Linked DNA regions of Homo sapiens. The protein of the gene in region 2 interacts with the protein of the main gene of each other region in a biochemical or structural test. Each region holds a gene or a part of one and is shown on either strand. Other genes may lie near its edges.

Region 1 (15,391 bases), on a different chromosome or scaffold from region 2:
CTACCCCCTTCATGTGCTCAGTCCATGGGCCCGAGCGCCCAGAGGCCCACCCAGGCCACCTACAAGCCCAGATTGTGGGGAAGACAGAATGGCATGTCTCCAAATGCTGCATCATCCCGAACAGCCCACAGCTCCTACCCCACTCCCAGACTGCAAGCAAGAGGATACAGGCACTACAAAATCATTCAGGAAACACAAACTTTATTTTGATATCTCAGAAACTGGCAAGGAAATTACCACAGTGACAACAATACACTTTCATGTTTTAAATCATCTTCAGATGCATGGTCTCTCTGGGACCTCATGACCACCCTGAAAGGGAGGCAGGGCGGGTAACTACAGATCCACTCTACTGGGGACTTGTGGGAGGCAACCCAGCTTCCATGTGGAACTTTATACATTCCTTGCAGATACCTCCTGCTTCAAGTCCAGGTTCTTCAATACCCAGGAGGTACAGGGCTTCACCAGTCACAACAGATACCTGAACTCCCTCAGATGTAAAACTGATTGGGGATTGGGCCACCCCATCTCTAAACAAAGCACCCCATCAGAAGGATAGTTCTGGCATGGACAGAAAGAGGGGTTTTTCCTTGCTATCCTGTTGGGGAACAGGTGGAGGCAGCAGACAGCACCTCCCTGCCTTCCTCTCTCTGCCGCACCTCTTGCTAATCAGCCTTTCTGACTCTTCCCCAGAAAGAAGGTAGGGCTGCGCCTCCTTCCTCTCTGCAGGGGCCAGACTCAGATCTAGGCCCGGGCTGCCACTCATACTGGGAAGCCTCCTTTCATGAGCCTTCCTCAACCCTCAGAGCAGGAGGGCCCTGCGCAGGGGCTACCGCCTCTATCTGCCAGCGGCACACAGGGCACTTGGCCGTATCGCTGAAGACCCGCCAGGCACAGTATCTGCAGAAGTATGTGTGGCCGCAGGGCACAAGGCGGGTGTTGGCAGCGTGATAGAAGCAGATGGCACACTCCTCTCCTGGTGTGGCTGGAAGAGGGAGCAACACAGGTCAGGGCACATGGGGGAAGGGGTGGGCAACCCGCTCACAATGTGACCACAGAGAATGACAGAGAAACATGTAGCTATATTTTGAAGAATGTTACCTAGTGAGGAAATGCTTACAGTGTAATCAAGTGAAAAAAAGGGGGAAGAAAACCATTTTTTATATACATATATTCCAATTCCAATTTAGAGAGAAGGAAAACGCAGCACAGACAAGTCCCTATATACACACGTCTATATCGATGACCGAAAATACTGGGAGGAAATCCACCCAAGAGGTAATGGGTGCTTTTTTTTTAACTTTCCTCTTTATCCTTTAATCTTTTTTATTTTTTAGAGACAGTCTCACTCTGTCATCCAGGCTGGAGTGCAGTGGTGTGATCACAGCTCACTGCAGCCTCAGCCAGCTGGGCTCAAGCCATCCTTCCACCTCAGCCTCCCGAGTAGCTGGGGCCACAGACATGCACCACCACACTCAGCTAATTTTTGTACTTTTTGTAGAGACAGGGTTTCGCCATGTTGCCCAGGCTGGTCTCAAACTCCTGGGCCCAAGCGATCCTCCTGCCTCGGCCTCCCAAAGTATAGGGATTACAGGTGTGAGCCACTGCACCCCACCTATCCTTTCATCTTTATTTCCATTGGCAAAGCATTTACAATGAATGTGGATGATTTTTTAAAGCAAGAACAAAATAACACTGTCTGTTCATAAAAGTGCTCTTATAACTCACAGAGTAGGCAAATGCTCTCGAAGGCAGAGATGCCAGGTTGCTTTTAGGTTTCCAGTAGGCAGAGCCAAATCTTTTGGCCCAAAGCCTGTGAGAGACTTGAATGAACAACCAGTAGGACGTGGGGCTTCTCCCTCCACTCCCAGGTGCTGGATTCCCGGGGAGTCCCTGATTCTTGGGAAGGCACTCACCTTTGGGCTCAGGCACAGCCTTGTTGCTGAGGTCCCATGGCATGGGTGTTGGGAGCCGGCTGGCTGTGGGATCTGAGGCAGAGAGAGAAACTCAGGTCCAGGACGGCAAGCCCAGGTGCCCCCCCATCCCCGCCCCTGGCCCCGCAGCAAAGTGTCCGGTCTCCTTTCTTTCCTGGGTTGCAATGCTGAGCCCCCATCCCCAAATTTTAAGACCCTGTCCTGGCCATCCCTTCCCCAGCTTGACCCAGCTGAGAATCCGAGAATCCTTGGGGCTGGAGATTCCTCCTCCTGAGCCACCTTCCTTCAGGCCCCTCTTCTTTGCCCTCCAGCCGCTGCCTGAGTGGAGACCCTCGGCCGAGCCACATTCCCAACCCAGATGGGCATCAACATCTCCCAAGAGCCTGGACAAACACAGGTTCAGGGCTCCACTCCAGACCCAGCAAATCAGGTGCTTCAGGTGTGAGGCGCTGGCAGCTGTGACAAATGGTTTTAACAAATTTGCTGGCAGGAGGCGGGGAGTGGACCACCACCCGGCCCAGGAATGCCAATATTTCTTGTTATGGGTATTACTGCCTCTCTGTGCTCTCCTGAAATCCACCTTCTTCTGGGGTGGCTAAAGGGATGGCTCTCTTTTCCCCCCCACTGACTGAGAGGCTCAGCTTTCTCCCTGCAGGCACTCTCCATGCGCACCTCTAGCCTCACCTGTGTGTTCCCTTTGCTTGCCACCTTTGTATCTAGTGAACTCCTATTTAGGCTGCAAAGCCAGCCCAAATGTTTCTTCCTTTGTAAAAGGAGATGGACACTCTAACAGGTGTTTGAGTAACAGATGGTGTGAGTGCTGGTCCTATCTGCTTATCATTCTTTAGGGACAAGACTGCCCTCCCTACGACTGAGCCTTGTCTATCTGGCGTCTCCAGTGCCCATCTTCACAGCTAACACTGGGCAGGGGCTGATGGAATAACTGAATGTGAACGTTCTTCCTGTGGCTCTGGATCGGTGTGGGGTGCCACTGGAGCCCCCATCTCCCCACCTCCCCTGCGGGGTCCCCATGGTCGCCTCACCCAGCAGCTCGATGGCCTTAGTGGTCCCATACACGTCCATCACGGCCCAGAGCGGGGCGCCGACGGGCACGCCCTCACGCAGCAGGAGCCGGCAGCCGGCGTTGACCTTGGCGAAGAGGCAGCCGCGGCGGTCCACCCAGAAGCGGACCAAGTCCCCAGTGAGCGCGCAGCCCTCAGGCAGCACGGCCGCCCACGTCGGGCTCTGCTCCTCCAGGTCGGGGCACAGGAAGGGCGGCAGGCTGGGCACGGACACGCACGCGGGGTCCAGGCGCGTGAAGCCCACGCGGAGGCCGCCGCACCAGCCGCTCTCCTCCCGCAGCACTCGCAGCGCCACACGCTCGCCCAGGCGCACCGGCCGCTGGCTGAACACGATGCCGTCGTGGAACGTGGTGCGCCTGTGCGCGATGCAGCCACGCGTGTCCAGACGCACCTGTGCGCCCTTGGCCTCGGCATGGAAGCGAAGTGCCTCTCGGGGCGCCTTGGCGTCTGTGGGTTGAGGATGGGGAGTGTCAGTGCTAACCGGGTCTGGACCCACCAGCTCCCCAGAGAGCCCCCAGTATCCCAGAGTCCCTCACACCTGGGAGCACCTTGACCTTCCCCTAGGGACCATTTCCACCTCTCTCGGTTCCTGCAGGGTTGTTATGAAAACTATAGGAACTGATGTCTCTTTGTACTCTTCCTGCGACCAATCTAGTAATGGTTATTATTGTTCAAGAGAAAGAGTAGGGTTAGTCAGGCATAAATATCTATATGTTTGTTATACACGGTTTTTTTGTTTGTTTTGTTTTGTTTTGTTTTCAGAGATGAGTTCTTGCTGTGTTGCCCAGGCTGGTCTTGAACTCTTGGCCTCAAGTGATCCTCCTGCCTCTGCCTCCCAAAGCGCTAGGATTACAGGCATGAGCCACTGCGCCCAGCCCATACATTTATTCCATATGCACCTAAAAATGACGGAAGAGGAGACAGACAGATTTGCTGACTGTGGTCTGCTCCAGGAGGCTGTCTGCTATTCCCTCTCTGCTTGTCTCTCTTGTTTTCCCATGGGGAACTGCATCACTTGTGAAGACCATGGCCCCCAGCAATGGTGACATCCTTGTCCTGGGAGAGAAAGGGGCTTGGCTGCTCCCCACAGAGTATGGGTGCAGGCTGGAGAGGAAGTCCCAGGTTAGCCCCTCAGAATCCTGGGTGGGGTCCAGCCTGGCTCTGGCATGGGCTCTGAAACCAGGGGACTTCCCACAGGACTCTGCCTGGCAGTCAGAAGGGGAAAGCACCTCACTGAGCAGCCCTTCCTCTCCACTCAGCCTGCAGGAAGCTGGTGGGGCTTCCTACCCCAGAACTGCCTTAGCCGGCCTTGCCCCTCCCCTCCTGGTCCTGCTCTTTCTGGGCTGGGGGAGGGAGGCTGGCTGGCTGTTTGCTGTTGAAAATAAAAGGCGAATTCAATCAGAACTTAAGCCAGACCCCATCCTAAGGAGCAAGGCCACTCCCCTCCCAGATCAGGTCACACTCCCCTGGCAAGGCAGGCACTCTGACTACACACAGGTTTACACCCTCTAGCAGAGCCCAGGGCCAGGAGGCTCCATCTGGTCAGGCACCAGGACACGTTTGCGGTGACAGTGACTCTGTCCCTGACTTCCACAGGCCAAAGGTAAGCCTACCTGCAGTGACCTTTCCCCAGCATTAAAGACCAGTGCTCACCGTGGCCTTGGGACTCTCACAGAGCCCTGTGTATCCGCATTCACCCCTCGCCTGCGCCCCGCCCGTGCCTTCCCATGATGCACTCATCCCTTCCTGCGAATCCCAGCAGGCCTGCCCAGCTCCCTGTGCCTCAAGGCTGCACCTAGGCAAGGAGAAGTCCCAGAGCCAGCACACATGGAGAGCCGGAGCCATGCTGGGGTCCCTGACATCAGTGAACCTGACCTTGTGCCCATGGTTGAGGCTGCTCCATGGAGGGCAGTGGGATACCAGCTGGGCCATGGCTAACACCCCCATTCCAGGCCTGCCCTGCTGCTGGCCCAGGCAGGTCACTGTCCTCCAGGGCCCAGCCTCCTCACCTACAAACGGCAGTGAAGTGCATGTCCAGCAAGGCCAGGAGTCTCAGGACACCTGTCTGGAGTCTTGTTCACTGCCTACCTGGCCAGGCATGGGGCTGGGGGTGACAGGGCAAGTGGGGCCTCTTGGCACAACCAGCCACAATCTAGGAGGGCAGAGGCCAGCCCTTTGGCTGGGTCACTGCCCATCCCTGAGGTGGGAACTGGAGAGAAGCCCTGGAGTGGGCTTGGCAAGAGGCTGGAGCAATGGCCCTGGACGAGGGGCGGTGCCGGAGATGGTGGCCGGCATCCGAGCCCTCTCTACAAACTGCCACACCCAATCCTGCTGCCATCCTAAGAGGCAGACAGTGGGCAAGTGGCTAGCCCCACCCCACAGCAATCAGGGGCAGAACTAGGGTTGATGAGGAGTTCTCCCAGCCTCACCCAGTGCAGCCCCTACAGAGAAAGGGGAACCCCTGGGGTCAGGGGAGCTGGAGCCCTGTCATGCTCAGCACCATGGGCCTAGACGGGAACCAGCAGAGATGAGCCCGTGCTCATTGGGGATGGAGTTTCCACCCTACCCTCTAGGCAGGTGCCCGGGACAGAGGCTGGCTCCATGCAGGACTGGCTCTGGGGGCAAGGAGGGGTGGAGGACGGCAGGTGACCTCACTCCTCCATCCACTTCCTGGAGGGAGTAGGGAACTGGCTGGCTGGAGGCAGTCCAGGGAGGAGGGGAACTCCCCCGGAATGGCCTTGAGGGTGCATGAGGCCCTGGGAGCCCTTGAGAAGCAGGCCTTGCCCTGGAGGATAATTTGACAGTTTGCAAAGCTCCCCGATCCCTGCTTCAGGAGCCTTCTCAGCAGCCCTGTATGGAGCTAAGTCCTCATGTCACCAGGGCTGGTGGGTGCCGAGGGGACGTGGTGGCTGCACAGGTCATTCCGCAGCCGGGGCATCTAAGCAGCCTCCTCTGTGCTGCTCACTCAGGCTCCACCCCCTACCTCGGGCAGCCCCCTGGGACCTGGCAGGGCAGCAAAAGGTCCCTTAGGGCACAGCCTCTCATCTATGAAGACTCTTGGTCTGTCTGCATGGTCATGTCAGCTATTCACTGTGCACCACCAAGGCTGAGTGGGGCCGAAACCCACCCCCGACCCACCAGCCTGGCAAGGGCCCACAGGACCGTGTCCACCGACTTCATACAGGGCTCTGTGCCTGGGTCTGGAGCAGGGTCGGGGTGGCCTGACGGGTGTGATCACCACCTCCACTCCACCTGCCTCCTCCCACGAGGCCTGCAGGGGTCCTCCCACACTTTGACCCAGGCAGCCCGGGACACCCCACTCCCAGGGTGGGGAGTGGCAGAGGTGGGCATAGGCCACATGTGGCTCTCCAAGCAGACCTGTCCCCAGTGGCTGGGCTGGCACAGGGTTCAGATCATCCTGGTGCCCAAGCACCCTCACACCTAGAGGCAGCCGCTCTTTCTATGGGTCCTGTTTGCAGGCAGGACCCTGAGCTCAGAGAAGCTGAGTGCCCTGCCCATGGGCGATCGCTCCAATTACTCCACCTGCCCCGGGGTCCCCACTGCTGAGGGGGTGGACTGCCTGCGGGCTAAGCAGGGCCTCTGGGGTGTCTCTACTCCAGGACAGGTAGAGTCAGATTCCAGATTCTCTAAGATCTTGGAATCTGAGTGGGGCAGGGGCGGCCCCTTGCTCAGCAAGAGCCTCTAGGGATCTCCATCCTCACCACTCCTCCAGGTGTCAAGCCTTTCAGGGTGTCAGGCACCCATAAGCACTTTGCAGCCTCTTTTTCTCCTCATCCCGCCTCGGGGAAGCCCTCAGAGCTTGAGAAGGCTGTGCTAGTCATCTGTGTTTTTGCAGCCAGAAAGTGGGGGATCCCAGCGCTGCTCCTGGCTGCTTCACTCTCATGCCACCTCCTTTAAGGCCCATCATTTCCCTGCCAAACACCATTACTGTGACAGCAGCAGTGGCTCTTGGCACAGCCAACTACTAGTCTGTGAGCCCATGGTGCCCACCAGGGGACAGAGGACCCTGAGCCCAGGCTCCCAGCTCTTTACCTGGGAGGGTAGGTCCAGAGATGCACAACCCCAATAGCTGGTGCTGAAAGACCAGGTCCTCAAGGCCGGGTGCGGTGGCTCACGCCTGTAATCCCAGCACTTTGGGAGGCCGAGGCGGGTGGATCACGAGGTCAGGAGATCGCGACCAACCTGGCTAACATGGTGAAACCCCTTCTGTACTAAAAATACAAAACAAAATTAGCCGGGTGTGGTGGCGGGCGCCTGTAGTCCCAGCTACTCGGGAGGCTGAGGCAGGAGAATGGCGTGAACCCAGGAGGCAGAGCTTGCAGTGAGCTGAGATCACGCCACTGCACTCCAGCCTGGGCAACAGAGCGAGACTCCGTCTCAAAAAAAAAAAAAAAAAAAAAAAGACCAGGTCCTCTATCTCCCCCACATATGGCTCTTCCACTACGGGACACCTGTGGCCTCAGGTGAGGCTTGCAGAGAACCTTTGTGCCTATCACTCTTTTGATTTGTGCGTTTGATTTTATAAAGATCCCTGTAAGCCAGCAGGCATCGTCCCTGGCCTGGAGATGTAGAAACTGAGGCCCAGGGACAAAGTGACTTACCCAAGGTCCCATAGCTCAACTTGGCAGAACTGGGACCCCACCAGCCCCCTAAACTTTACACTGACCACATCTCTACTCCAGCAATGACACAGAGCACCCTCTGCTACCTGTACCCCCAGTCCAGAGACCAAGCTCCAGGCTTGCAGGAGGTCTACTTACTGGCCTCGAAGCAGAGCTGGGCACCCATCAGTCTAAGGTCCTCGGGCACAGGTCCCCAGGTCTAGAAGGAACTGCCTGGAGAAGGCCAGTGGACAGGTTACCAAAGATTCAGCAGGTCTGCTTTTTATGGGCCAGAGATCACGTTACAAAGTTGATGATTAATTCAATGGTGCTGTCATGTGTTACTATATCCAGGGGATTTCCCAGTGATTTCTCCTGACTCGCAGACTGACCTGCTGGAGCTGGCCGGCCTAAGAGAAGGAAACAGGAATGGGGGTCTGGCCTGGGTAGGTCTTACGGTAGCCTTCTTTCTCACTTCTGACCAATCTCAAGCTGGCTGTGCATTGTAATGGTCCAAGCATGTTAATAAATACCTATGTCCAGCCCCGCCCCCAAAGACTCCGGTTCCACTGGCCTAGGGTGGAACCCAGGCATCAGGAGTTTACAGAGCAACGCAGATGATTCTAATGTACAGCCAGGATGGAGATTCACTGCAGCAGACCCTGGCACACAGAAGGAACTCAATCTGTGTTGCTGAAGCAGATTGAATTGCATTTGCTGTATCCCAGGACCTGGGAAATTGTGCACCTCCAACAGAAAGGAGGGGTAAAGCAGACAGAAGAGGAGAGGAGCTGATGGTCCCTCCAGCCTTTCTCACTGGAATTTCTGGGAATTCCACTTTCCCAGAACTGCCACAAAATGCAAATAGCCCTACAGACAGTCACTGCAAAGGTCTAGCTCCCAATGTGTTAGCACTGGAAAAGAAGCCAAAGGTATTCTAGCCCGTCAATATTTATTTCGGTTAGGAAAACTGAGGATCATGGAGGGAAGGTGGCTTACTCTAACCTAGTGCTCCTCACTCACATTGCAACATACTCTCAAATCTCCTGGGGATCTTGTTAAAATGCAGATTGACTCAGAAAGCCTGAGGCCCTACCTGAGATAAGTGGACCCGACTTTTTTTTTTGAGACAGGGTCTCACTGTCATTCAGGCTAGAGTGCAGTGGTGTGATCATGGCTCACTACAACCTCAAACTCCCAAGCTCAATTGATCCTCCCACCTCAGCCTCCTGAGTAGCTGGGACCACAGGTGCATTCCACCATGCTCAGCTAATATTTCTGATATTGTGAAGACAGGTCTAGCTATGTGGCCCAGGCTGGTCTCAAACTTCTGGCCTCAAGCAGTCCCCCCATCTTGGCATCCCCAGGTGCTGAGATTACAGGCATGAGCCACCGCACCTGGCCAAGTGGACCCCACTTTCGGGGGCAAGGGCCTGGTGGGTTTGGAGCCTTGTGAGTGCCCTGACCCTCAACCTGTGGGCTAAGCCCCTCCCAAGACCCCAGATCAAGGCCACAATCAGTGACTGCTCGGCTAAGGGATGGCTAGTGCCAGGTACGTCTCCACCTTAGTGCAGGCTGCCTTGGGTGGTTCCCCAGAGCGCTGCAGCCATGCATCTTGTTAATAAATCACACTCTCATGAGAGGTATGTATGGCATCTTATTAGGGAAGTCAACTCTGAGCCTCAGACTGTCTGGAAAATTACCTGGCAAGCTATGGCCCTCAGGCCACCCAAAGCCAGCAGGCTGGGGTGGTATAGTTGCATCAGTGGGACCTTGGGCCATGAGGCAGCTGGGGGGCAGAGGAGGTCATTCTGAGGAGCTAAAAAACCTGCCTAAAGCCTCCCGTCCAGGGTACAGGCATACCCGCCACACACTCTGTGTTTGTTTATTGAACAAACTGCCAGGGTTCAGGACATGCCACCCCAAAATATGGCACTTTGGCATTTAAGAAAACAGCAGAAGCAGGAAGGCCTCGCTCACCTTCCCTTTGCCCGAATCCCCTGAAGTAGGGCCATGAGGCCATAAGACCCATCCTTACCTCTGAAGACACAGGGACAGAGAGAAGAATCTGAACAGGCTGGCCGACTCTCCCCGGTTTATTACCCCTTCCCCCTTTAGCCAATCACTTCTCCACGATGCCCACTCTTCATGAAACCAACGCATAAAAATACATGTCCCCATTTCTTTGGGTCTTCATTTCCAAAGGCCCCTGTGTCATGTAAAATTTACATGAAATAAATTTGTGTGCTTTTCTCTTGTTGACCTGTCTTTTGTTATAGGTGTCCTAGCCATGAACCGAGCAATGGGTGGGGAAAGATTTTACTTTTGTACTTTTCCTCCCCTGCAGAATGCTACCGTTTTTGTTGTTGTTGTTGTTGTTTTTGAGAGGGAGTCTCGCTCTGTGGCCCAGACTGGAGTGCAGTGGCACGATCTCGGCTCACTGCAACCTCTGCCTCCCAGGTTCAAGCAACTCTCCTGCCTCAGCCTCCCAAGTAGCTGGGACTGTGGCGCTCTCCATGATGCCCAGTTAATTTTTGTATTTTTAGTAGAGATGAGGTTTCACCATGTTGGCCAGGATGGTCTCGATCTACTGACCTCGTGATCCACCCGCCTCGGCCTCCCAAAGTGCTGGGATTACAGGCGTGAGCCACCGCTCCTGGCCCGGAATGCTACCGTTCTAAGTCCAGAACTTACCTGACAGTCCTCATGGCAACTCCTCAAAAAGGTCCTGTTTATTGTAATCATTTCCATTATACACGTGGGGAAACTGAGGCACACGACAGTTACGCAGCTTGTTCAGCTCACTAGGCATGACGTGACAGGCTGGGATTGGCCCAGGTATCGTGGCTGGAGACCGTCTGCCTTGCGCCCCTCCACGGCCACTCGCCGCGGAGACTCCGCCCCTTGGAAGTGCCCCCTAATTAGGAATATCTCCTCCACTGGACTGCGCGGGCACAGAGCAGGAGATTTGTAGATAGGCCTAACTTGCTGCTGAGTGTCAGGTTGAGGCTGCCCCGCAGTAGATGTCACCCGCCAGCCCCGCTGCAAACCTTTGCTCTGAGAGGGGCGGGCCCGTGCCCTCAAGCGCGGGGCGGTCTCCGCTGTGCAGAGACTGAGGCGGCCCCTGCTGGCGGCGGTCAGTACTGCAGGAGGCGCCGAGGGCCCGGGAGCCCCCAAAGCCGGGAGGGGCGCCCCAGAGGGAGGTGAGCGGCGCCGAGGCTCACTATACCGCAGCTCCCACACACCCGTCTCCCAGGGTGGGTGGTAGCCTCACTGGGACCCCTCTGTTGCAGTCGGCCTCTCTTGCCCAGAGCCCCATCACTACACATGTCTTCACGCAGGTTATCTCTCAAGACTCAACCCGCGCTCCGGGAAGAGCCTGGCACACGAGGAAGCCACTGCTGCCCCGCGCCCACTCCAGCGTGCGGCCCAGCGGGACCGGGAGCCCAGCCCAACCTGGGGCACTGTCAGGCAGCCCGGTCCCTCGTGGGCCCTGCCATTAAGGCCCAGGGACGCCTACCTATGACACTTGCCAGCCCTCATCCGTTCCCCGCCGGGCCAAAATCTCAGAGGGCAGGGGCTGCCCTGCCTAGAAACCAGCCCCAGAACATCAGGGCCGCGGGCGCTGTGGGCGGTCGGCCAGGGCGCGCAGGGGCCAAACAGGGCAGCGTTGGGAGCTTTTGCACAAGGCACCCCTCTGCCAGCCTCATGGCCCAGCCATGCCACCCCCGTGAACCAAGTGTGCTGGCCCACAGCAGCGCTCTGCACAACAGCCCCAGCCTGGAAACAAGCGAATGTCCACTGCTGTCCACCTCACACTCAGCTGGGGGAGCTGAACTGCTCAGATCCCCGGGAATGCAGGGCCCATTCCCCGGAGGCCAAGGCCAGTGTCCCACCCACACCCAGTCCAGGCCTATGCTTCCCCGGGTCTGCCGCCTAAGCAGCCCTGTCCCTGATCTCTGTCTCAGAGGCTGCTCCCGGCCCAGCTTCCCACAACCATCAGCAGGACCTAAACTGCCACATATGCGCGCCATGGAATACTGTGCCAATGACAACAAATTACTGCTACCTGCAACGACGAGGATAAACCTCACAGCCGTGAGGCTGATGTAAGGGAAGACCCAAAGAGCACCGCGTGCTGCCATTCATAGGAAGTTCAGGCAAAACCCATCCGTGGTGTTCGAAGCAGGACAAGGCTGCCTTTGGGAGGTAGTGATCGGCAGGGACACGGGAAGCCTCTGGGGAGCTGGAAACGTCCTGCACCTTGATCGTGGTCACACAGGTGTGTAGATGTACAAAAAAACCCTTCCAATCGGACCCTCAAATCATACATAAATTGCGTCTTCGTGTTATGTTGGCTAAGCCCTTCCAGCCCTAACAATGTCGTTCTGGCGGAGCTGGTGAGTCAGGGAGCATCCACGCCGCCTGGGAAGACCGGCTCTGGAGGCTGGAGGGCTTGACCAGCACTGCCACCCGGTGGCCGGCAGCGGAACTGACCACAGGCCTGGTGCCCTGGAGGGAATGGGCCACAAACGCTCCGCCAGGACTGCACCTGTGTCCTAGGCGCCGCCCTCAGCCACCAAGTCGGCCTGCCTCTCGAGCACCCAACAACTCCAACAAGCCCTCTGGACCAATAGCTGCAGCCCCCACGGGGCCTTGGGGGTGGGAGGGAGGAGAGGGAGGCCAGCCTGTAGCACAGTACCAGCCCAGAGTTATTAACAGGTCTGTGCTGTCACTTCCGCTCTGCTGCGGTCCTCCTGGGTCCTGATTCTGCCGAGCGCCTCCACAGCCTTCCTCCCTCCTGGTTCTCCCCGCCAGCAGCCAGCACGGGAGCGCCCACTGGGCATGAATGGGGAGCCTGCCAGAGAGGGGAGCTGGGGGAGAGAGGCACAGCTTCCAGGCCTGGCGTGGCTGCTCATGCCTGTGCGTGAGGGAAGGGTCAAGGGAAAGGTGTGCCCTCTCTTCTTTTGGTTTCTTGTTTTCCTTTTTCCCGTGCCCCCTCACCCCATACACAACTGTCAGGGTGTCTGTCCTGGAAAGACACCTGGTACCTGCCCTGGTGGTGCCTGCCCTGTGTGGGGTGTGTGTATGCGTGTGCATGCGTGTGCATGTGTGCATGCATGTGTGTTCAACAGGAATTGATTTAGTGCCTGCTATGTGCCAAGCACTGTCCCAGTTCTGGGTAACCAGAGATTGAAGGAAACCCAATCCTCATCCTTCAGCCACTTTGTGCATGCCCTGGAATTTAGGTAAGTGCTACAAGAGGGCCAAACTGAGGGCTGGGAAAACCAGCGGTGTCGAGGGGTTGTTATGCCCAGGGAATGGGTGAAGGTTTTGTGGAAGAAGAGTTATTAAAATTGTGCCCTGAAAGGTAAATAGGATTTCAACAGCCAAGAAAGGAATGAAAGGCATTTCAGGGAGAAGGAATACACACACAAAAGCATAGGAAAGGAGACATGATCTGTGCTGTATGGTTGTATCAGGTAGGATTAGGATTGCTTGCATGCAAGAGAATGTCCAAAAGGACAGTGGCTTGAGCAAGGCATGTTCATTTCTTTTTCACATAAAATAAGCTGAAGACAGGCAGTCCAGCTAGTCATGACACCTCTGCAGCCATAGGGGACCCAGGCTTTCTCCGCTGTTCAGCTCCACCATTCTAGCACTGGCCTCAAGGTCACGTCATGTACCAAAAGTGCTGCTGGAACTCCAGCCAGTACATCAGAGCTCCAAGCATCAGGGAAGAGAAAGACTCAAATGGGCACTCCTCTAAGCTAAGCCAAGCCAGCTTGCAATTAAGCTGATTTACTGGAGGGCCTATGTAACGTTTTCATTTATAGCTCATTGGCCAGAACCTTGTCACATGGCCACAGCTAGCTGCAAGGGAAACTGAGAAATGTGGTCTTTATCGGGAAGAGCAGCTAAAAATTGGGGTCTGTCACTAAGGAAGAAGGAGAAACTGGATGTTGGTGGGAAGCCAGCACTGCCTAGCCCAGGGTAGAGTGGAGCAGTGGTCCTTCAACTTGTGGGGAGGGGGGCAGGAAGGCAGCCTGATCACAGGGGCCGTGCCGTGGAGGGGCTGGACTCTTCCATAGCAAATAGGGGATTGCTGAAAGATTCTCAGCAGGAGCCAAGGGTTGAGGAACCTGGAACTGTCTGCTTGGGGGAAAGAACCATTGGGCAGAAAATGGAAGCATGCAAGGAGGGGAAGGGAACTGTGAGAAGTTAATAAGGGCACGAGGCAGGGAAGGGCACCCCAGGAGAGCCAAGGCTAAGCCTGGCAACAGTGGGAGGTGATGCCAGGGCCCCGGGGAGGGACACAGATCTACTGAGGGTAGTCTGGGAGGAACACAGTACTAGCAGATAGCTGTGTCTGAGGCAGCTGTTAACCATCAAGTCAGGTGGCTCAAAGGCAACTGAGAATCCAAGTGGAAGCTCAGGTGAGATGACAGCACTGGGAACATAGATGAAGCGATCAGTCATACAGTGGTGGATGGGATCAGCCAGGCAGGGATCCAGTCGTTCAGCTGGAGGACTCTGATGGATCTTTCGGAGTTACTGGGGAAGGAGAACAATGGAGTGACCAACTGCATAAATTTTGAAGCCAGAGCTGGGTTCAAATCCAGACTTTAACAGCCATAAGCCTGTGGGCTGGCTAACAACACTTTCTAAGCCTTAATTTTCTCATGTGCAAAATGGAAATAAAGAGGCCTTCTGTGCGGGCTGATAGGAGGGCTGAATGAGTAATGAGTAGCACATTCCCACACAGGGAACTGCACTAACCAGTAAATACCTGCTCTTACCAGTAAACCACCCCCCCGCCCCCCACTTACTGAAGAGGACATCAGTGCCTTTCTTGGGGCCATTCACTGTGCCCGACAGTCCTCTCACTGCAAGGTGGGGCCCGTGGAGCCCTGTGTGGGATCGCTCAGGTGAGGTCACAAGCACTGTGCCTCTCCAGGACCCTGAGACCTCCAACCCAGCATGGCTAGGGCAGCCCCTGGCTCTGCCAAACCTCCTGGACAGGGGCATCTGCAGCCCCAGACAGGTGGGTCAAGAGAAGTGTTATGCCTCCTGCCAGCAGGGAAAAGGGGCCAGAGTAGGCCATGGCATGCCCCTTTCCTTAAAGGGCACAGCCAGAAAGAGCACACATGGCCCAAACTTCAGCTTGAATCCCATTGACCAAAGCTTAGTTGTGTGGCCACATCCAGCTGCAAGGAACTGGGAAGTGTAGGCTTCATTCTGGGCAATCATGTGCCCAGCTAGACAGAAATTGGAGTGTTCCAATATTACAATAGAGAAGGAGAGAATGGATATTGAGGGAAAACAGCAGCCATAGGGTGCAGGGAAAGAGAGAGGGCATGGCACCCTGGGTGCAGGGTGGTGGGAGGCTCTGAGCGCTGGGAGACCCCATGCCCCTGGGACTCACATGTGCTGCATGCACATCGCCTGGCACCCAGCCCGCAGGAACTCAGCTGTGGGGGCACTGTGGGTGGGTGGGCAGGGGAGCTGTTGTAGCTGAGAACCACCTCTACTGGCCAGAAGGACAAATCACCAACTTCTCCAGTAGAATTTTTCCAGATCCCTGGAGTTCCTTCTGGTCCCTCACCAAAGCCAAAATAGCGCAGAGAGGAAGAAAATATCTTCCTTCCACTCCTCTGAGTTTTTGCCCATTGTCAAAGCTCATTGCAGCCATTGTCATTGTCTCTACTGCCCAGGCCTTGGGCACAGTCCATCCTCCACAGGCAGGGATTGA
Region 2 (16,267 bases):
ACCCCACACGAGGGTCCAACTCCCTTTTTAGAGATGTCAAAACTGAGGGTTTGAGAGGAGAAATAATCCACTCAAAGTCATACAGACACTAACTAGTTGGACCTATCAGTTTTGTCCCAGGTATTTGGAACAGAATCTCAAAATTTCCTTTGGTGGTATGATTTTCACATCTACTGAGTGTTTTACAAACCATGGGTACTTAAAATATGTTTATTGGATGAGTGAATGATTGGTGTCAATCTTGGTGAAACTTTTAAATCCCATCTTTGCAGTGTGCTCCACTGCAGAGGGCTGTGCAGGCTGGGAGGGAAGGAGGGCCCAGGGGTCAGAAGTATGCAGTCCCCCCCCGGCCCTTGTAGGGGAACCCATCCCTGCAAGAACCAGTCACATCTCCATAACACCAACCGACCTTCTGAAGGTCCAGGATCCCTCACTGCCTCTTCCCAGAAAGTGTCTATTTCCTTCCCACTTTGTCTCCCTGAACCAGCCTTCAGGAACCCTGGGGATTCCAGGACCCTCCCAAGTTTGGGTATGGAAGGGACTTAGCACTGGCAGATGGGTGGGAGAGGAGAATAGATGAGGTTCACCGCAGGTTCTTCTTACACATGAGGGTACGAGGCCCCGAAAGGGGAAGCAGCTTGCCCCAGGTTAGTGGAGCAGGGCTAGATGGGCTTAGAACAGAGGCCACTGCTCCAAAGCTCTGATGGCCTAGAGTAAAGCGTTGTCTGATGCGCGCCCAGGGTGTCACTTTGGTGAGGCAGCCCACTTTTGTGGGCGCTCAAGCACGAGCGCCCCTCCGGAGCGCTCCAGAGCCACTCCGGAGGGGCGCTCATGCTTGAGGGACAGAATAGGGAGCAGCTGAGTCACAAGAGAATATTACTGGGCCGTATTACAGATTGGGAAAACAGAGGTTAAAGAGTTTGATAGCAGGCCGGGCGCCGTGGCTCATGCCTGTAATCCTAGTACTTTAGGAGGCCCAGGCGGGTGGATCACAAGGTCAGGAGATCGAGACCATCCTGGCCAACCTGGTGAAACCCTGTCTCTACTAAAAATACAAAAATTAGCTGGGCGTGGTGGTGCGTGCCTGTAATCCCAGCTACTCAGGAGGCTGAGTCAGGAGAATCGCTTGAACCAGGGAGTCGGAGGTTGCAGTGAGCTGAGATTGCGCCACTGCACTCCAGCCTAGCGGCAGAGCAAGCGTCCATCTCAAAAAAAAAAAAAAAAAAGAGTTTGATAGCTTACACACCACTAACAGGTGGCAGAGTCAGGACTTGAACGCAGGTCTAGCCAACTCCAATTCACACGCTGTATCCACTGGTCCACAAACATACCTCTCAAACATCAGGTCTTTGCTGCTCTCCTGGCCTTGGAGCCCTCTTTCCAGTTCACCTCTCAAATGGGCAACTGGGTTATATCATTCAGGTCTTAGTTTATCCTGCCTTCATAGCCTTCATCCTTATCTTATTTTGTGATTATCTTATTTCTATAACCCACCCATATATAGTGCCATGAGACGGCAAGTGACAAAGTAAAATTACTTTTGCTGTTTAGCGAAAATAGCAAAAGTAATTTTAGCTACTTATAAGTAGGAATTTTGTCTTGCACCAAAGTATCCCCTGAGACTATACTTATCAATATTTGTTGAACACATGAATGAATGAATGAATGAACGAATGAGTGAATGAATGCGTGGGCCTCCTGCCTAGCTTTAAAAGCCACATTCAAGGAAAAGGTGGCTATGAGCTTATCTTCCTTGGCAGAGCAGTTTTGTCCACTGTGGCGCTAGCAGAGAGCACACCCTTTGTTCTCCACGGGGTGGAAGACACCTCCTCGGTGGGCAGAGGGGAGCAGGGCTGCTGGTCTGCACCTACAGGCTGTTCTCAAACAGGCTCACCCCGCAGAGCTCTGGAAACGAGGTGAGCAGCCCTCCCACCTGCTCTCCAGAAAGCAACCTGCAGAGAAAAACAGCCCGGGTTGACCTGGATCCACCCGGCGGGCGCGGGGAGGGGCCGCAGCGGCATTGTTTGCCTCTGTGTATGGCAACCAGAAACCACGGCAGCCAGCACTTCTCAGAGGCACCCCGCCCCCCTTTATTTTAATCTCCTAAACTGATTTGTCAGCAGCAGGAAGTGACATGACAGCTTTCCTCACAAAAGGGAAACTCCTCCGCGTTACCATGGGGATGGAGGCCACTGTAGGATCACAGATTTATATAATCTTAAAGGTGTACACACAATGATGTCATCCTCTGACGGGCCAGGGGAGGGAGGGAAAGGGACGCCAGAGGCTGCAAGTCCAAAGCAAATTAGCTACGATTTGCAAAATTCCAAGGAGAGGATGCGGTGGAGGTGGGGGAGGGGGAGTGTTAGAGGTATTATAATGAAATAATGGGTGCCTGGAAACCACAGAAAAGCATAATGTATGCATTGATGCATTTTCTACATCCCAGAATTAGAGAGATGGGAAGAACAGTACTCAGATCCAGTGCAAATTGGTCATTTTACGGGGTGGGAAAACTGAGCCAGAAGAACTGCCAGAAGCCATTAGGACAGAGACAAGGGGATGGAAACATTTCTCCACGGCCCACTGTGTGCCAGGCACTTTACATTCATCAGCCCATGTCTTTCTCACAAGTGAGCCTCAGTTTTGTCCTCTGTAAAATGGGTATTGCTGTCAAAGGTTACTTAACCTTAGCAGTACCTGGCACACAGTGCTCACTCTAAAACTGGCAACCATCATTGCCACATTATCAGTATTAAAAGTCTTATTTCAATCTCTTCCTGGGAAACACATTAATAGACTTTAAGTATCTTTCATCACGAGGTATTAATTTTTTCCCAAGGAAAGCAGTCTGAGGCCAAATATGAGATTTTTCTGGAGGGTCTGAACACAGTGACTCCGGTACATGGGGATCAGGGGTCATCATTCCTGGCTCTCAGGGCTGGCATGAGGCAGAGTGGCTTGAGCCGGGAGAAGTGAGTGACTTGTTTTCACTGGCGGCTCCCTTAGGCAGCCGCTGTATTTTTCCACTGCGTGGATCACACTGGAGATTAATTTTGGTTCAGCCAGTGCCTGCCAAGCAGAAAGCGAAGGCCCTAGCCCACGGGGAAGTCAGCCATGGCATCTGTCACAGACTCGATGTCGCTGGTACATTTCCACGGAGAGAGATATTTACAATAGTAAATTTCTAGGCTTTGATAAAAACACTGGGTACGATTTGTTTTGATAGGCATGAACATACTTGTAATCGGAAACCCAGCTGAGGAAATGAGCTTGCCAGCCCAGGGTAAGTTCTTAGAACTTAGAACACAGGGATCTTTCAGACCCTGGGAGTCAAGTGGCAGACAGTGAGCCACAGGGGCAAAGTCAAGGACACTGATTCTGCGTAAAGACCTTGAACAACAGGACAGGACCAGAACCATAGCACAGGGTGCTCATGGATAAGGCGAATGGGATATTTCCTTTTCTGCTTCCCATAGCACTTTGTCCAGAAACAAAGAGTGGGGTGGGGCGCTAAGGGGCCAGTAATCCAAGAGCTTCGCTGTTTCTTAACGCAACATTATAGACTGGATTATGGATTGGTAGCAATTACATCTCTTCTGTTTTTTGCCTGCTTGGCAAAGGAGTACAAATTCAGAATATTATCCTAGAACAAGTCAGGTTTAATTGCTTATCTCAACAAAACTATGAAATCAGAGCAGCAGGTGACATGAAGGAGGCAACTACCAAAAATGCCATGTCTATATGCAGAAATGCCAGCGTGAATGTCCTCCACAATGTTAGCAATGGTCAGGTTGGGGATGGGCTGTTGCGGGTGATTTCTTTACATGGTATTTGCTTATAGTGCTTGGATTTTTTTTCTTTCTTTTTTTTTTTTTTTGCCAATGTATTTAAATTTTCACAAAAACAAAAGCCTTTTTAAAAGCAAAAAGATAGGTCAGGAGTTCGAGACCAGCCTGGCCAACATGGTGAAACCCCCATCTCTACTAAAAATACAAAAATTAGCCGGGCATGGTGACGCGCACCCGTAATCCCAGCTACTTAGGAAGCTGAGGCAGGAGAATGGCTTGAACCTGGCAGGCGGAGGTTGCAGTGAGCCGAGCTCACACCAGTACACTCCAGCCTGGGTGACAGAGTGAGACTCCGTCTAAAAAAAAAAAAAAAAAAAAGCCATGAGACGGGCAAGTGAAAGTCTGAAACAGATGTAGATTCCAATTCTCCTATTTCTGCCACTTAGCCATGCTGGGTCTCAGCATCTCATTTGCAAAAGGCCTTGCTGAGTTTCTCTAGGGGCAGGTAGCACACACCTGCCTTATGTCATGTGTTTGGAAAAACTTTTGTCTCCTCATAACTCCAGCACAGCTCAGAGATGGGAAGGCGACTTTTTATATTAACCTGAGGAGGGTATTAAATGAAGAAGGCAATCCAGACAAGTGGCTATTTCCTCCTAGCTTTGGCTCTGGGGACACCTTGGCATCCTGGGTGACATGGTAGGTTACAGAGCCGCTAAAATGGGCATGGGCAGACACACTGATCCAATACTAAGAGTTCAGCTGTAGCGTCCGGTGTTTCATGATACTCACTTGTCTTCCTCCCTTGCAACCCAGCCATTTCATGGGACCAACGGGCCACCACAGGGCATGGGATCAGATCTCAACACATTCTGCAGGCCCTTGTCGAAATTCTTCCCTAGTTCACTAGTGGGAGAGGGATTGGGTGTGGTTGCCAAAGAAATAAAAGCGTTGAAATTTCAATAGAAATGCCATAATTTATTCCATTGTATAAAAAAGTCATCCTTATGTAACAAAATGTCTTCTTAGAAGAAGAAATATATTATTTCAGGTCATAAATAATCAGCAAACATACAACTGTTGGCAACTAAAAAAAAACCCAACACTGGTATTTTCCATCAGTGCTGAAAACAAACCTGCTTAAGATATATTTACAGGATAGTACAGTACTCAAAAACAAAAATTGAGGTATTTGGTTCTTCTAGGAGTAGACAATGACATTTGTGAAGGCAGACACCTACACAAAAATAAATAAGGTATATTCTCATATGTATATGTGTCGTCGGGAATAATACTGGTAGGTATGTCAAGCATGAAGAGATTCTACAAAAAACAGGGGCGAGCAAAAAGAAACCGGATCACACACTGAGTCCTTTCTCTTCTGCCCCATTTTGTCAGATGGACTTGATGTACCCACTATATATTGGTCCCGAATGTGCTGAGTTCAGCAAATGTCTTGACGCTAAGTCATCACCATAACTGCTTAGAAACCCAGAGGAACTCGGGTGAAGTTAAATAAATAAGGACCAGCCCTCTCGAGCCCCTCCCAGAGTTATTGCATTTCTCCTCTCAAGGAGCATGGAGTCCCAATGGGATGTGAAGAGCCTCACCTCCCGTGGCCTTTCAGCAGCTGGGAGAGGTCGTAATGGGGCTCTGAAGGTAGCTCAGCGCACTGTTCGTGGAGTGGACAGGGATGGAGACGGGGAAGTTGAACACGGTGGTGGTGGAGGTGCCTCGGTCGAGCACAGCCATGGCGGGGCTCCCAGCCTCTGCCGAACAGTGCGGAGCCAGCACCTGGGACTCAAACTGCAGCAGCTGGCCCATGAAGCTGAAGTTGGGAGAGATGATGCTTCGCCTCTGCTTCACAAACTCAAAGGCCTCGTCCAGCTTGACTCGATTAGTCCTCATAAGGTAAGCAAGGCAGATGGTGGCTGACCGGGAAATGCCTGCCTGGCAGTGGACAAACACCCTTCCTCCAGCATTCTTGATGGAGTCTGGAAAACCAAAGGAGCGGCTGGTTACTTGAGAGTTCAGGAGAACCACCCCAAGCCCAGGTACAGTGTATCTGAGAAAGGTCATGTGTGTCTTGTCTAGAAATGGTCAACATCACCACATGCCATCACATGGATACTGTTCATGGAGGCAACGTGGGCACTGTGCAAAGGATGGCACAGGATTTAAACTCAGACTGGGGATTTCCACTTAGCAGATAGATCTCAGACCAGTCAATTCAACTTTGTGAGCCCCACTTTGCAAATCTGTAAAGTGGGACATCGAATCAAATTCATATTTTACAGGAATGTTGCCCACACCAGACTGATACTGAATGTGTGGAAGAAGGCTCAGAAAACTTCAAGCTCTTGCCACAGAGGTTGGGCTTAGTGGCTAAAATGAGAAGAGAAAGGCAGAAAAGCCCCAGGCATCCATTCCATTTACCTATGAAGTCAATGGCCTCGTTGAACCAGGAGCTGATGTCTGCCTTGTGGTTGTCCTCCACAGGGATGCTCTTGTACTGGTAGTGACCCTCAAAATGGTTGGGACAATTGGCTGAGACGTTGATCAAGGCAGTGATGCCCAAGGCATCCAGCATGTCCTTGCGGGAAGCGTGATACGCACTGCCCAGGTACAGAAAGGGCAGGATTTCCACCGGGCCACCCTGAAATCCAGAAATATCCAACATTCATCAAGCTTGCTCAAAGCCAAGGCCAGTGCCCATACCCACAAAAACTTTCTGCTGGAAAAGTCAATTTCAGATACCGAGTGAACTCAGTTCTGTTGCTGGAGGATAAATAAATAGGGAACTAAGCCCATTTGCCTGGGCAGGACCAGCAAGTTCATTTCCGTAGAGCCTACAATTGGAGACTCGGCTCCGTCAGACCACTTAACTGTGGAATAAATCATATCCCTGTGTCCCCTCCGTTATAAATAATGCTGCAGGTCACTTTCTATATTCTCCCTGGCACTACTCTTCCATGCCTTTGCCAGTTCTTACTTCTTCCCTGTGGCAGGGACACCTACTAACCTGATCGTAGAGTGGGGTACTGCAGGAACTGCACCCAGATTCCGCGCTGTCAGGGACGCTAGTACTCAGGGGAAGGCTGAGCCCCATGGGGGTCGACTGTTTGCTGCACAGCTCCGGGCAGGAAGCCGAAAACGCTTCGTATCCTCCTGGGAATACAAAGACATTTTTTTTCCCCATTAGTGACACCGGGACACGGCACCTTCATACAACTCCCCCACCCACCAAGGGCTGGAAGTTTACATCGGAAAGGCCCAGGCAAGTCTTTGTTTCCAGAGCCAAACAAAGCCAATGACAAGTTCCAGAGATAAATGTACTCCAGCGCCCACGCGCTGCAGGTGGGGCGATCCCCCGGGAGCCGAGAGCCAGGGGTACCGGGCAAAACCTCAGGGGTGTGCGGCCCGCCCCGAGCTTCCCCGAGGGCGTACCTTTGAGGAAGAAGACTTGCGCGGCGCGCGCCTCGCGGCAGAGCGCGCCGGCCGCCAGGGCCAGGGTGCCGTCGCGCTTGGCGCCGTCCAGGGCGGCGCTGCGCTCGTCCAGCAACACCACGGCGTGGTAGGCGCCGGCCAGCAGGCGGCCGCGGAGCTCGGCGTTGGGCACGATGTGCTCCAGGCCCATGGCGCCCTTGGCCCGGCGCCGCACGATGGTGCTGAAGCGCACGTTGACAGAGCCGGCGATGTGGCCGGCGTTGAAAGCGAAGAAGGAGCGGCAGTCCAGCAGCAGGCATTGCGCCGCTCGCTCCCCCAGCAGCGCCCGCAGGCCTCCAGCGTCCAGGGTGCCCACTTCCATGACCATGGCCGGCCTCAGCGCCCCCAGCGTGATCGGCCCTGCGGTGCTCTTTGTCTGTTCTCGGGGCCAAGGGCAGGGCGGCGCTTTTCGAGGAAAAGCTAGACCCCCGGGTCTCTCTGCGCCGAACCAAAAGCCGCTTTTGGACTGAGAGAGGAGCGTCACGCGGGGCTCCGGGCTCCTCGGCTTCTTCGCGGTTCCCCCGACTGCCCCTCCGACCCGCGTCGCACACACAGCCCAAATGTCCTTCGCAGCGAGCCTGGCCCGGGGAGCGCGTTTATATGCGGCCTCTGGGGGACGGGGCGGGCCAGACCCGCGCGCAGGGGGAGGGGGGGTGTTTGTTTGAATGGTGATCACGTGACGGGGCGGTGACGTCACCCGCCCTGCCAGGCCAGGCGCCGCCGAGCCAGAGGGGGAGACGTCATCAGCCTCGGAGCTGGGTCCGCTCGCCGCGCGCTGGCTCGCGGCCCGGCCCCCGCCCTGCTGTCCGGCCTGCTCTTGGCGCGTCCCCAGGGACCGGACCCGCGCCGCGCTCCAGGCCCAGCGGGGAGGAGGAGGGCTCGCTGCCAGCTGAGGCTGACCTCCGGGATGCGAGCGGCCGGGAGAACGGGCGACGTGCCACCTGCCTTGGCCTCGCCGCTCCTCCCTCTCTCCCTCCCCGAGTCCCCTTCCCCGTGCCCCTCGGCCGCCGACCTGAACCGAAAGGGGCTTCCTGTGCTTTTGCATACTCTTGTGCCCCTTTTCCTCATTTCCTCATCACTAACAGGCGGGGAAACTGAGGTTCCCCAGGCGAAGCGACTGACTTGCCCAGAACCACACTACTGGGGTGGGGGCAGCAAATAGGCGCCTAAGATGAAGTTTAGAGAAAAATGAACAACTCTGCCGATAGAAAAGTCGTCCCTACCAAGACCGACTCGAGCGAGTTGGGGCGGAGAGGTTCAGGGCAATGCTTTCCTGTTTCCCAGACTTTTCTTTAAGGTGGCTTTAAAATATCTACATTTGCCATGAAAGTGTGAGCAAGCAAACTCCCACCGGGAAATAATGCTATTCCTAGTCTTGTGGCCCCCGGAAGACTTGGAGCCAAGGGAGGCAGGTCAGGGGGCTGAAATCCCGGTGAGGGGTCGCAAGGCCCCGCAGTGGATTCCAGGGTTTGGCGTTTGGAGGGGTGAGGGGCGACCCGCAGCGCGACTCGACGGCGCCCCCCAGGGGCCGCCCGACACGTTTCTGTCACCTTGGCTCCAGACTGAGCTTCTCCATCCCTTTCTTTATTATACAAATAGGCAGTATACACAGTGAGCGCCCACTAAGCGCTGGGCTGGGGGCCTCCAACCCGGAACAGAAGCCGGCCACAACCCTCGCTCCCTGTCGTCGCGGCCGTTATAGGCCGAAAGCAAAATCCAATCCCGGGCCATTGTGGGCGGATTGCCAGGACCTGGATCGCAACACTTGGGAAGACCCCCGCCCCGCCCAGCGATCTCCGTGCCCTGAGTCCCAGTGACGGCCCCCTGGACAGCGGAGCCTGCTGCAGCGACGCGACGCGCTGGGTACACAAACATAAACATTGCGCCACCCGCCCGGGTGCCGAGTCAGGAACATTCTGCGGTTTCCTCCCCTCCTGGGGGAGGGGATTTCGCTGGCCACCCTGTGTCGTCGCTGTGCGAGCTGTATCACCAGTGGCAACTTCTGCATTTGCCTCGCTTAGCTTGTGTGTTTTCGCCTGCGCAAATGTTCTGCCTGGATTCTTCTAGAAAAGTTCAGGGCATGGAGTGCTTTTTTTTTTAAAAGGGCGTCTTCTACCTTCATTTGAACATTGGTCGAGGACAGCAAAGAGGTCCTCAGATAAGGGCAACGCCCTCCCTGTATGGAGAGATAGAAGAAAAAGAAATTGTTTATACTACTTATTCAGCTGAGGAACTCAACATAGTTTTTGCGTTGAATCATAGAATGTTACAGCTGCTGACTTTTCACTGCATACCGACTTGATTTGTCCCATTTTTTTTCTCACCAAGAGCATTTATTATACCTTCCCCTACCGAAATTTTTCAAAAAGAAAACTTTTTAAGAGCTGGGCGCTGTGGCTCACACCTGTAATCCCAGCACTTCGGGAGGCCGTGGGGGGGCGGATCATGAGGTCAGGAGATCGAGACCATCCTGGCCAACATGGTGAAACCCTGTCTCTACTAAAAATACAAAAATTAGTTGGGTGTGGTGGTGGGCGCCTGTAATCCCAGTTACTCGAGAGCCTGAGGCTGAACCCGGGAGGCAGAGGTTGCAGTGAGCCAAGATCACACCACTGCACTCCAGCCTGGTGACAGAGCAAGACTCTGTCTCAAAAAAAAAAAAGAAAAGAAAACTTTTTAATGCCGTTATCATAGTAGTAGTGGCGCAGTCTGGCCCTAGAGCCAGGTGTCTGCTGGCCTCTCCTGCTTTTCTCTCTCCTCCCTTGCTGGAAAGAGTGCAGAGAGTAGACTTGAACCCTGTCATTTTGCTGCTGGATGGTCAGAGGTGAGTCTCGACCCCTACTGAGCCTCCAAACCCACGTCTGTACAGTGCGTCTACACTGGCCCACTTTGTAGATGGTTTGAGGCCCAAGTGAGAGATGGGGGGTTTAGGGAACTCAGGCCCTACCTCACCCCTGCTCTTTATGATTCACTGTATCTCTAGGGTTTCCCCTTCCCAGCAGAATGGTTCTTTATATATCATCATGCCCCTGTGCCTTTCAGAGACTTGCCTCAGAACCAGGGAGAAGGTCACTGCAAGCCATCTGCTTATGAGATACATCAGTGGACAGGGGCCCAACTCAGGCAGAGCTCCTCTTTAAGGCCCACTAACACACAGTGCTCGGGCCAGTGGGTCACCTGCCCGGCGACAAGTGGTAAACGTGTAGCCACCTAGGCCCCCAATCCAGGCAGTGGAGATGCTGCTTCTGACTGAGGATGGAGCCAAAGAGAGCCCAGCATAATCTGGTCTCTGTAACCACAGAAGGAGTGAGGGACTGGCCTTGTGGGCCTGGCTGCCAGAGGGAGTGAAGCAGATAAATCAGTGGATGTTGACTCAGGGGAGAGAATTGGGCCTTTCTGACCTGGGCTGTTCCCAATTCTACCTAGTCCTGCTTAGGAATAAACCTGGAGACAGTGAGGAGTAGCGGAAAGAAGGGTTCAGGGTTCCACACTCCCCAAAAAGCTGGCCTGGATTTTCTACCTTTAATGTGTGGCCTTGAGTAAGTGCCCCCATGGTGCTGAGCTCCACCCCCTCCTTCCCATGATGGAGAGAAGAATAATAACATTCACCTCCAGGGACTCTGGGGAGACTCAGTGTAGCCAGGGTTGGCCCTAGCTCACAATCCCTGTCCTAATCCTGCTCTCAAAGGCGACTTTGGATCTCTCTTGGGATCACAGGAAAAGAAAAGAGTTGAGCTCCCGCTGATGACAGTCAGAAAGAGGCCCCCGCTCACTGTCTGCTTGGTGACCTTGGGCAAGCAGCTTACCGTTTCTGAGCCTCTGTTTCCCCATTTGTAAACTGGGAATAACATCCATTTAGGACCAAGTAAAACAGTGTATAAGAACCTGATGTGGATGACACCCAAAGAGGGTGCTCTCAAGAGAGGGAGCAGGGCCCCACATTCATGTTCCCTCTTTCAAAAACCACGGCGTTTTTCCTGTCTCCCCTGTGCTGTATGGGGGTTCCTCCCCTCAATAGCCTTCTATAACTCCCCATTTCTTAGCAAATCCAAAACTCACTGCCACTGGGCCTCGGCCATCTATATGGCTCAGCTTCCCACTCTCTTTGCTTTCTCTCTTGTGCTCCAGGAAAATTCTGTGGGCCTGTGTTCCTAGAATGTTCTTGTCCTCTCCCACATCTTTGCTCACATTCCTCCCCCTCCCCCTGCCAGACAGTGGCCCCTCTGGGCTCCCCCATAGTCTTTCCAGGTGAAGACTCCTCTGGTTTCTCCAACTTCTCCCTCTCCTGCGTCTGGAGGACATTGTCCGTATATTCTGATTGTGTACAAGTCACCTAGATCTTTGTCGTACTCTCCCCAGGTTCTAAGTTGGTCAGCTTGAGGGCAAGGGGTGTGTTTTTCTCAACATTGCACTCCCCAGCCTACTACCTTTGATGCAGTGCCTGGCACATAGTAGGTTCACAATTTGGGAAACGGTAGAATTGTTTCAAAGGGTACTGTTGAAAAGTGTCAGAAGAGAGGAGGGTGGTCACTGACACTCATTAGGCCTCACCTCTGGGCCAGGTGCATTACAGGTATCATTCCATGAATCTATCAGTGATCCTGTGAGGTGCTTGTTGTCCCCATTTTATAGGCAAGGCAAGAGGCTCAGAGAGGAGACATACCAAAGGTCACATGCCTAAGGTTATAAAGCTGGTAATCATCAGACACAGATCCAAACCCAGCGCCTGTCTGACTTGAGAGAGGGAGCTGGGCCTGGGTCTGTTGAGGCCTCCGCGTCTGCCAGCCCCATGTCTGGCAGCACTGGCTGAAGCCTCTGCCTCCCAGCTTCCTGGAGTTCTTCTCGCTGGACGGAGTGGTCCCTGGTGTCAGCCCAGCAGGGAGCCTGGAGCCTTCTAAGACTCCCAACTCAGGCCCTAGTGCCGCTGCTGAAGAGACTCTGTAGCCACTCAGGCCTACCTTGAGGGACTGGCAAGGGGCTGACTTCACCCTCTACACCCAGGCAGTTGGGACAGAGCTAGCTGCCATTGCACAATCTTTACAAACAGATCTCCATGCTCAGACCTGGCAGGGCCCACAGAGCTGTGTCATCCTGTCTAACCTCCTCATTTGAGAGGCAAGAGCCCAGAGAGGTTAGGCAATCTGTCCAAAGTCACACAGTGTTCAGAACATTCTAACCGTAGTCAGCATTGTGTGAGCTGTGTGTCCAAACCCTTAACAGTGTTTATCTTTGGAAGGTGGAGTTCCTCTCATTTTCTTCCTTATGACTCTGAATGATTTGAACTTTTTAAACTTAAATGTGTAACTTTTGTAACGAAGAATAAAAGAAGATTAGAAGGCAATCATATGTAGGTAACAGCATTGTTGTTAAAACCAAGTTACAGAGTTAGACTGCCTGGATTAGAATCCCAGCTTGCTTACTCACCAGCTGTGTGTATTTGGGCAAGTTACTTTACCTCTGTGAGACTCAGTTTTCTCATCTTTAAAGCGGGAATAATAATCATATCGATCTTGTAGGGCTGATAGGAAGGTTATATAAGACAGTGATTGGCACACTAGAGCCTGTGAACCAAACCTAGCTCGCTCCCTCCTTCTGTACAAACCACAAACTAAGACTGGTTTTTATATTTTAAATGGTTGGGGGAAAAAAATCAAAAGAAGAATCTCATTTTATGACATGTGAATGTCATATAAAATTCAAACTTCAGTGTCCATAAATAAAGTTTTATTGGAACACAGCCACACCCGTTCCTTTACATGGTATCTGTGGCTGCTGTCACACTACAATGGGAGGCGTATATTGTGACAGAGACAGTATGGCTCACAAAGCCTCAAATATTTACCCAAGTCCCTTTACAGGAAAAGTTTGCCAACCCCTGATAGGAGCTCATGGATGAAAAGTACTGTAGAACAATGCCTGACACAGAGTAAGTGTTTAGAAAACTTTGTTATTATTATTATATAGATATTTATAAAATCTTCTTCCCTTCCGATGTTTTTAAAAGCAGTAATTGCTTTCATCATATAATTCATTGTGTTGAAGGCACAGTTTTCATATTTTAGCATTTCTCAGAGTGTAACAATTGGAGGCATGTCATCATTAATTGACAGCATTTTCCTTTCTTAATGGTGCACAGATTAATGAAAGGGCCTCAGAACTGATGACATCTTAGAGCCAGTAGATGCAGTAAAGTATAAAAGGTTTAAGATGGAGAAGAATTAAAGTGCTACAGTCATTCAGTTAACATCCGTTCTAGTAGTGGGACAGACTTGTTAAGTGCCAGGATAGAAACTGGGTAGCCCAGGAAAGATGCCCAGAGGAGGGGACGTCTACTTGGAGATGTAAAGGCTGATGTAGGATAGAAATACCTGGAGGAAATGCCTTTGAGAGGTGGGCCTCAGTTACTTACCACTTTCCCCCGGAAGCCTCACCTCCCCATAAAATAAGAATAGTAATAACCCCTAAAGACCACTTTGTGATTCATTTTCTTTTCTTTTTTTTTTTTTTTTTTTTCATTTGGAGTCTCGCTCTATCGCCCAGGCTGGAGTACAGTGGCGCGATCTCAGCTCACTGCAACCTCCGCCTCCAGGGTTCAAGCGATTCTGCTACCTTAGCCTCCTGAGTAGCTGGGATTACAGGCACCTGCCACCACGCCTGGCTAATTTTTGTATTTTTAGTAGAGACAGGGTTTCACCATGTTGGTCAGGCCGGTCTCAAGCTCCTGACCTCATGATCTACCTGCCCTGGCCTCCCAAAGTGCTGGGATTACAGGCGTGAGCCACTGCGACCGGCTTATCAATAATCATTTATATCTCTCCCACTAGCTTGGAAGCTAGGGCATGATTTCTTGTCTCTCTTGGTCCCCAGTACAGATCTCAAAGCAAGGCTTGTTGGACAAATAAATGAAGATGAGCCCAAGAGCCCAGGAGAGGGACCGGGAACAGCAGGGCCTCCGTGACTCACACAAGCTTCATCCCTGAACCAAGGACGCAGCCTGCCAACAATGGCCCCAAGCCACACCCCGCCACAGGGGGAACTGATGCTGCGGTGAGAAGTGACAGCTTTCTGTTGACTCTTTTTTTTTTCAAGCAGAATATGAATTGAGACATACTTTCATTTTCATAATCAGAACCTAACACTTAGTAACCAATGTTGGTGGAAGCAAATGAGATCACAGTTTGTCTGTTCCAAACTCATCTCTGGGAAAAGGAGGAGGAAAAATTATTGGCACTATGTTCAGAATCATAGCTGAAGATGCAGAAATTGTTCATCCCAATTTTGCCTTTGTAAGTAATGTGGGGGCAGTTCTTATTAGTAATTGCCAATCTCTACTGAGACACAGTATTTTGCTAGGCGCTTTATATTCATTTCCTGGTATGATCATGACATTAACCCTGTGAAATGCGTACCCTTACTATCTCCATGTGAAGAAATGAGGGAACTGAGGACCAGAGAGGTGAACTGACTTGTCCAAAGACACACAGTAAGGGCTGTGACTCTCCGCTTTCTAAGATTTTTGTTCTTATCGCTCCACAGCACATAGCAGGCGTAGTATGAAGGCAGCATGCTGCACAATTTCGCTGTTTGTTTCTTGGAATAATAATTTATAGGGGACTGCTTCTAGATTCCAAAGGAAAGAGAAAGGAAATATGCCCCAAACTCAGGCTTTCAGCCTGGCCCTGCCTGACTCACTGAGCTGCATTGGACAAATGATTCATTCACTGGCCTTGACCTCAGTGGGTTTGGCCACCCATTGAGAGTGAAGTCACACCTCCAGCACTGCGATGCATTTATTGATCCACTCACCTAGCTTCATGGCAGGCAAGAAACAGGCCTGTGTGAGCCTGCCCAGGATCAGGGACAGGAGAGCACACAGGTGTTTCTGGATATCCTCAAGCTGTAGCTGGGCTGCTCGATTCTTCCCTAGGAGATCCTCCGGGGGCCTGAATTAGTTTGCTAGGGCTTCCGTAACAAAGCGCCACAGACTGAGCGGCTTAAATAAAAATGTGTCATCTCATGGTTCTGGAGGCTGGAAGTCTGAGATCAAGGTGCTGGGGATTAGGACTTGAACATATGTTTTTTGGGGGCACACTTCAACCCTCCGGAGGGCCTGTGCCCCAAAGAGAGCCTCCTTCTGTGTGCAGTGAAGGTGTGAGTTCTAAACATGAGAAAAAAACACCCCTTGTTCTTGGATAGGGTGACTCGATACCACAAGCAGGTCCAACTGGCCCAGGTAAATATATTCGTTTAACATGATCGTCACCAAAATATTGAGGGTAGGTGTTTTTTTCTGGAGTTAAACAAGTTGATTCTGGAGTTGATATGAAATAATAAACAAGCAAAAATAGCCAGAATTGTTTTTTTTAAAAAAGGGCAATGGGGTGGAGGTAAGCCCTACCAGACATTAAAACACATCATAAAGCTTCTGTAATTGGCAGGGCACAGTGGCTCATGCCTGTAACCCCAGCACTTTGAGAGGCTGTGATGGGAGGATTGCTTGAGCCCAGGAGTTTCAGACCAGCCTGAGCAACATAGCGAGACTCCATCTCTACAAAAATAAAAAATTAAAAGTTAGCTAAGTGTGGTGGTGTGCACTCGTAATCTCAGCTATTCCAGAAGTTGAGGTGGAAGGCTTGCTTAAGCCAAGGAATCTGAGGCTGCATTGAGCCATGATCACACCACTGCACTCCAGCCTGGGGGATGGAGTGAGATCATGTCTCTAAATATTTTTTTTTTTTTGAGACAGAGTCTCACTCTGTCGCCCAGGCTGGAGTGCCATGGTGCGATTTCATCTCACCGCAACCTCTGCCGCCCATGTTCAAGCAATTCTCCTCCCTCGGCCTCCCAAGTAGCTGGGATTATAGGTGCCTGCCACTGCGCCCAGCTAATTTTTGTAGTTTTTAGTAGAGACGGGGTTTCATCATCTTCGCCAGGCTGGTCTTGAACTCCTGACCTCATGATCCAGCCGCCTCAGCCTCCCAAATTCCTGG

Evidence for each region.
Region 1: of the proteins of DUSP1 (region 2) and NEURL3, one has a biochemical effect on the other in vitro, tested with the Homo sapiens proteins (one study listed by BioGRID).

The regions. Positions count from the first base shown.
Region 1 is NC_000002.12:96,497,462-96,512,852, forward strand, and holds NEURL3 (E3 ubiquitin-protein ligase NEURL3), read right to left. Parts: upstream 7,897-15,391; 5' UTR 7,826-7,896; coding exon 7,798-7,825; intron 7,249-7,797; exon of another isoform or gene 7,070-7,248; intron 3,464-7,069; coding exon 2,978-3,463; intron 1,989-2,977; coding exon 1,917-1,988; intron 1,814-1,916; coding exon of another isoform or gene 1,729-1,813; intron 986-1,728; coding exon 783-985; 3' UTR 185-782; downstream 1-184.
Region 2 is NC_000005.10:172,763,348-172,779,614, forward strand, and holds DUSP1 (dual specificity protein phosphatase 1), read right to left. Parts: upstream 7,849-16,267; 5' UTR 7,606-7,848; coding exon 7,239-7,605; intron 6,960-7,238; coding exon 6,814-6,959; intron 6,448-6,813; coding exon 6,228-6,447; intron 5,786-6,227; coding exon 5,415-5,785; 3' UTR 4,749-5,414; downstream 1-4,748. UniProt on the Homo sapiens protein: Dual specificity phosphatase that dephosphorylates MAP kinase MAPK1/ERK2 on both 'Thr-183' and 'Tyr-185', regulating its activity during the meiotic cell cycle.